Homo sapiens: one gene and its partner. The protein of the gene in region 1 interacts with the protein of each later gene in a pairwise test. Each region holds a gene or a part of one and is shown in the gene's direction. Other genes may lie near its edges.

Region 1 (3,500 bases):
TTTACATTGACAAATCATGTTACTGCTATTTCTGCTCTATCAAAAACTACAAGTACCAAGTGGGGAGGAGAGGGAGTTTGTGAGGGATGGAGTGGAGGAGGGGAAAGAGAATTTTAATAGTTAGAACATATGAAGTGGAAAGAGTCCTGTACTTGGAGTCAGAAGACCCATATTCAAATCTGGCTTCTGCCAGTTACGAGACCTTACCTTGGGAGAACTTGACTTAATATCCTGCCCTATCTAATTAAAATAAGATGAAATGAGAATTGAGCAGTCTTTGCTGTGGGAATTGTAAAATACTATTTGGACATAAATTAATGTAACTATTGCTTATCACAAGTGTCAGTGATTCTGCTCCATAATTTTTCAGCCCTCCTACAGTGATATTGCTGCCAATCCAAAGGTATTAAAATGGATGACAGAGCTTACAAAACTGCGGAAGCAAATTAAAGGTATATTATGTGCCATTTTGTAATATATTTGCATTTTAAAAATTTTTTTATATTAATGTCTGAGAATCACAAATACAACTTTTGATAATTTTAAATCTTGGGCACTGTTTGACAAAAATAAAAGTTACCTTTTTTTGTTTTATTAGGGTCAAAATTGCATACTGTAGTACTGTGTTATAGTACAGTACTGTAGTTCTGTATTATATTTTAAATGTCTTTTTTGTGTTTTTATTAGTAATATCTTTTTGAAAGATACCTGAGATTGTATATTAATAAGTGAACTGATGTTATAAAGTTTATCTAAAATATATTTCAGATATTAAGCAGCTTTGAGTTTTGTTGGATATTTCATTAAGATTTTTTGGTAGGTATTTTCATCTAAGACTAAGAATGTCTAATCACAGTGACTCGTTTATACCACAAAGACTAAATTGTAACTCTTGAATGATAAACTAGGCATTGCATTTCTGGGTGTCAAACCAGTATAGTAATTGTTGAAGTATATTTAGTTTGTGGATGTTTAGTGAGTATGTGTTTTAATAATTATTACTTTAAAAATTATGCAAAATAGGGGTTTATTATCTGGAGCATCACTTTGGTTTAAATTTACTCAATAAAGTTTTTATTTTTATTTTTATTTCTAATTTTTTCGAGACAGAGTCTCACTCTGTTGTCCAGGCTGGAATTCAGTGACGCCATCTCAGCTCACTGCAACCTCTGCCTCCTGGGTTCAAGTGATTCTTGTGCCTTAGCCTCCCGAGTAGCTGGGATTACAGGTGCACGCCACCAAGCCCAGCTAATTTTTGTAATTTTAGTAGGGATGGGGTTTTGCCATGTTGCCCAGGCTGGTCTCGAACTCTTGGGCTCAAGCGATCCCCCTGCCTCAGCCTCCCAAAGTGCTGGGATTATAGGTGTGAGCCACTGCACCTGGCCTATAAAAATAAAAAAATATATATTTTTTATTTTTTTGAGACAGAATCTTGCTCTGTCATCGAGGTTGAAGTGTGGTAGCATGGTCATGGCTCACTGCAGCCTTGAACTGGTGAGCTCAAGTGATCCTTCCACCTCAGCCTCAAGAGTAGCTAGGACTACAGACATGCACTGCCACACCCAGGTAATTTTTTAAAATTTTGTATAGAGTTGGGGTCTTGCTTTGTGCCTGGATTGGTCTCAAACTTCTGGCCTTCAGCAGTTCTCCCACCTCGGTCTTGCAAAGTGTGGGGATTACAAGTATGAGCCACCGTGCCCAGCCCAGTAAAGTGTTAAGTATTTCTGAGGTACTAAATACTTTGTAGACAACTAGGGATATAGCAGTGAACAAGACAGACAGAGTCCCTGCTGTCATGGAGTTTATATTCTTGTGGTTAAGATAATGTTTGCCTCTCTCTCTCTCCTTTTTTTTTTTTTTTTTTTTTTTTGTTTGAGACAGGGTTTTACTCTGTTGCCCTGGAGTGCAGTGGCACGATCTTAGCTCATTGCAGCTTCCACCTCCCGGGCTGAAGCGATCCTCCCACCTCAGCATCCCGAGTAGCTGGGACTACAGGCACATGCCACCATGCCCAGCTAATTTTTTTGTATTCTTAGTAGAGATGGCATTGCACCATGTTGCCCAGGCTGGTCTCAAAACTCCTGGGCTCAAGCCATCTGTCTGCCTTGGCCTCCCACAGTGCTGGGATTACAGGCGTGAGCCACCTCACCCGGCCAAGATAATGTCTCTTAACTCCTCTTTAGAGTATCACTTAATTTTCCCCTATACTTCTGTTAAAGATTTCCTTGTTTAATGCCAATTTCCAGTCATCAGTGAAAATTATTACCTTGATTTTATTAGTAGTTGATACCATTAAATTGTCTAGCATTGGCCTCCTAATTTTCCCATTTTCTTTCACTTTTACTGCTCTGTAGTCCGTCTGCTGCATGGTAGTCAGAATTATCTTTAAAAAAGTCATGTTAGCCTGGGTCCCAGCTACTCTGGAGGCTGAGGCAGGAGGACCACTTAGGCCTAGGAGGTCAAGGCTGCAGTGAGCCATGTTTGTGCCACTGTACTCCAGCCAGGGTGACAGGGCAAGACCCTGTCTCAAAAAGAAAAATAAATAGTCTTACTACTTTCTTTTTCAAGCCCTTCAGTGGGCTTCCACCTAGAATAAAGTCAAAACTCCTTACTGTGGTTTTCAAGGCCTTGCACAGTCTGCCCTTGGCCGATTTTATCACTTTCATCTCTTTTCTGTTCCTCAAACTTGCCAAGCTTTAGGACCTTCACACTGGCTATTGCCTCACTGGGGACAGATGCCCTTCCACTAAATCCTTTGTGCTAGACAAGCTCCTTATTCCGTATTCTACCAGGATGATACTATTCAGAGAGGTCTTCTTTGTCAATCCCGTCCAATGTAGTTGTTCCTCCACAAATTATACTCCTTTTAGCGCTGTGACTCTACCCTGTTTTACCTATAGATCATAGCATTCTTTAAAGTTATTTTACTAATCTGAGTATTTGGTTATTGTTTTCCTTCTCTGAATATATGCTCCACAAGAACAGGAACCATGTCTGTTTTGTTTTCTTCTGTATCTCCCATGCCCATCAGAGCATTTTATTCAATAATAGGCTCTCTATGGATATAAAAATAATAGCTTGTTCTCTCTTTTTTTGTTGTTGTTTTTGTGTTTTTTTGAGACAGGGTCTGACTCTGTTGCCCAGGCTGCATTGCAGTGGTGCAGTCTCAGTTTACTGCAGCCTGAGCCTCCCAGGCTCAATGTGGTCTTCCCACCCCAGCCTCCCAAGTAGCTGGGACTTACAGGCATGTGCCACAGTGCTCAGCTTTTTTTTTTTTTTTTGAGACAGAGTCTCACTGTCTCACCCAGGCTGGAGTGCATTGGCTGATGTTGGCTCACTGCAACCTCCGCCTTCTGGATTCAAGTGATTCTCCTGCCTCAGCCTCCTGAGTAGCTGGGATTACAGGTGTGTGCCACCAGGTACAGGCACATGACACCACACCTGGCTAACTTTTGTATTTTTAGTAGAGACGGGGTTTTGCCATGTGGACCAGGCTGGTC
Region 2 (3,500 bases), on another chromosome or scaffold:
CTCCCAAGTAGCTGGGATTACAGGCACACGCTACCATGCCTGGCTAATTTTTGTATTTTTAGTAGAGACAGGGTTTCACCACGTTGGCCAGGCTGATCTGAAACTCCTGACCTCAAGTGATCCACCTGCTTCAGCCTCCCAAAATGGTGGGCTTACAGGCATGAGCCACTATGCCTGGCCCTGACCTTTTGTTATGTATATGTTGACTAAGACATAAATCTGAATTCTGTGTATGACATCAAATACGAAAGTAAATTATTTACTTTATAAGCGTAGCCAGCCACACAGAATCTGCATCTCAGTACCCATGTGTTCTCTATGATGGTATTCAATTTTTCTTCCTAGTCAAAAGTGGAGGCGCTATGTAAAGAGACAATCAGCCTACTCTTTGACAGGGAAATAAAGTGATTCTTTTTTTCCTTTTTTAAATTGTCTGTGATAGAAATTGGATATTGAGAACTTAAGTTTTTAATCTTTGTCCTTTTTTATCAGGTTTCTGTTGCAGCAGACGGTGCCCAGAAAGAGGGTAAAAATAAGTCAGAAGATGCAAAGTCTGTTCATTTTGAATCCAGCACCTCAGAGTCCTCAGTGCTATCAAGTAGTAGTCCAGAGAGTACCTTGGTGAAACCAGAGCCGAATGGCATAACCATCCCTGGTATCTCTTCAGATGTGCCAGAGAGTGCCCACAAAACTACTGCCTCAGAGGCAAAGTCAGACACTGGGCAGCCTACCAAGGTTGGACGTTTTCAGGTGACAACTACAGCAAACAAAGTGGGTCGTTTCTCTGTATCAAAAACTGAGGACAAGATCACTGACACAAAGAAAGAAGGACCAGTGGCATCTCCTCCTTTTATGGATTTGGAACAAGCTGTTCTTCCTGCTGTGATACCAAAGAAAGAGAAGCCTGAACTGTCAGAGCCTTCACATCTAAATGGGCCGTCTTCTGACCCGGAGGCCGCTTTTTTAAGTAGGGATGTGGATGATGGTTCCGGTAGTCCACACTCGCCCCATCAGCTGAGCTCAAAGAGCCTTCCTAGCCAGAATCTAAGTCAAAGCCTTAGTAATTCATTTAACTCCTCTTACATGAGTAGCGACAATGAGTCAGATATCGAAGATGAAGACTTAAAGTTAGAGCTGCGACGACTACGAGATAAGTAAGTATATTTTCTCTTGTGAAAGAATGTCAGATAAGGTTTTCAGACCTAGATCCCAGGGCCAAGATTAATAATATTTTTCGCCACAATATGCTAATGTCTCATTTCTTTTAAAGAGACAGTGCCACAGAAGCCCCACCCCATACCTCCCCACCACACACACACACACACACACACACACACACACACACACACACACACACACACGATTCCCAACCACTGACTCACAGGCACAGGCAGCTTCTCTTGCACTCATACAGACCCATAGCATTTCTAGTTCTAGAACTTCTTCATTGTTACTATATTATTACTGTATTATTGTTACTGTATTGTATTATTATTTTTATTAATAGCATATTGTATCACTATTAACTGCTCTTTATTTATTAGTCCACTAAATGAATCTGGCACTGGGATGTATGATTATTTGGCACGTTTTGTTTGGCAGATTGGGTCAGAGTAGCAAATTCAGCTATTGTGTGCGTGGCCTCAAAAGTCAGGAAATGTTTTTCTCCTAAAACATTATCAACCATTTGTTGTTGGCTAGGAGCTTGTTGGAACATGGCTTGGGTAATGCAGGCCAGCAAGGTGAGTTGACAAACTAGAATCTCGTGGTAGTACATTTGGGGAAAAGGTTCATTAGTAACTACTACATACTTGAAAGCAGGTTTAGGAATATGCTGTTAATTCTTGTCTGAATGAAGAGGATTATGGTATTTTGAATTATGTTTGGTTATCTTTCACAGACATCTCAAAGAGATTCAGGACCTGCAGAGTCGCCAGAAGCATGAAATTGAATCTTTGTATACCAAACTGGGCAAGGTGCCCCCTGCTGTTATTATTCCCCCAGCTGCTCCCCTTTCAGGGAGAAGACGACGACCCACTAAAAGCAAAGGCAGCAAATCTAGTCGAAGCAGTTCCTTGGGGAATAAAAGCCCCCAGCTTTCAGGTAAAAAGCCCTGGACTAGGTCAGCCACAGCTGTCCTATCTTTTGTTTCTGTCTCCAGCTGTATGTGACCTGCTGAACATTTGTTGTTTTTGTTAAATTTCAAAGGAATTTGGCTCTCCTGATATTTTTGCTTCCTTGACTGCTGTACTTACATTTATTGTACCTCTTTTTGAGTCTATAGAAGTAGACTTAGTGAATACAATGGCTTATTCCATTGTAATCCATATTGCTATCTACTGGTAATCTTTATTTATAGTTATTCTTAAGGATAGACATTTAGCTTTGCCTGTTAACTCGTATAACTCACATTTAACCAAACTCTTGGGCAGTTGGAAGAAAATACATTATTCTCTGTTTAGTAAAACTTGGGTAGATTCTTTGTTTTAATGGATGACTTAGTCATAATTGCAACTTAGATGAATGTAATCGTCATATAGATATTTGTGTGTATGTCTAAGTGGTAACTTCTTGATTAAGGTTTTTATTTCATTTATATTGGGTTAAAGAACTTGCTAGTCATTGGTTAGGCACGGTGGCTCACGCCTGTAATCCCAGAACTTTGGGAGGCTGAGGCAGGCAGATCACGAGGTCAGGAGATCAAGACCATCCTGACTAACACGGTGAAACCCTGTCTCTACTAAAAATAAAAAAATTAGGTGGGCATGGTGGCAGGCGCCTATAGTCCCAGCTACTCAGGAGGCTGAGGCAGGAGAATGGCATGAGCCCGGGAGGCGGAGCTTGCAGTGAGCTGAGATTGCACCACTGCACTCCAGCCTCGGTGACAGAGCAAGACTCTGTCTCAAAAAAAAAAAAAAAAAGAAGAACTTGCTAGTCATTAAAATCAAAGAAATAGTTAAGTGATACTCTTTTGTAATGTAGTATATATATATATTTATTTATTTTAAGAGACAGGGCCTCACTCTGTTGCCCAGACTGGAGTGCAGTGGTGTGATCATAGCACACAACACAACAGCCTCAAACTCCTAGGCTCAGGTGGTCCTCCTACCTTAGCTTCCTGGGTAGCTGGGATTACAGGCACACACTACCATGCCCTGCTAACTTTGAATTTTTTTTTTGAGACAGAATCCCGCTCTGTTGCCCAGGCTGGAGTGCAGTGGCACGATCTCGGCTCACTGCATTCTCCGCCTCCCAGTTTCAAGTGATCCTCCTGCCTCAGCCCCGCATAGTAGCTGGGATTACAGGCACATGTCACCATGCCTGGCTAATTTTTGTATTTTTAGTAGAGATGGGGTTTCACTATGTTGGCCAGGCTGGTCTCAAACTCCTGGCTCAGGTGATCCACCCACCTTGGCCTCCCAAAGTGCTGGGATTACAGGCGTGAGCCACCGTGCCCGGCCCTGGACTATATTTTAATTGGGATAGATAGAGAGTTTCTA

Evidence for each region.
Region 2: the proteins of FAM13B (region 1) and WNK1 interact in a two-hybrid assay, tested with the Homo sapiens proteins (one large-scale study listed by IntAct).

What each region holds. Positions count from the first base shown.
Region 1 is NC_000005.10:137,949,580-137,953,079, reverse strand, and holds part of FAM13B (protein FAM13B), read left to right. Parts: intron 1-370; coding exon 371-452; intron 453-3,500.
Region 2 is NC_000012.12:895,579-899,078, forward strand, and holds part of WNK1 (serine/threonine-protein kinase WNK1), read left to right. Parts: intron 1-492; coding exon 493-1,154; intron 1,155-1,900; coding exon 1,901-2,103; intron 2,104-3,500. UniProt on the Homo sapiens protein: Serine/threonine-protein kinase component of the WNK1-SPAK/OSR1 kinase cascade, which acts as a key regulator of blood pressure and regulatory volume increase by promoting ion influx.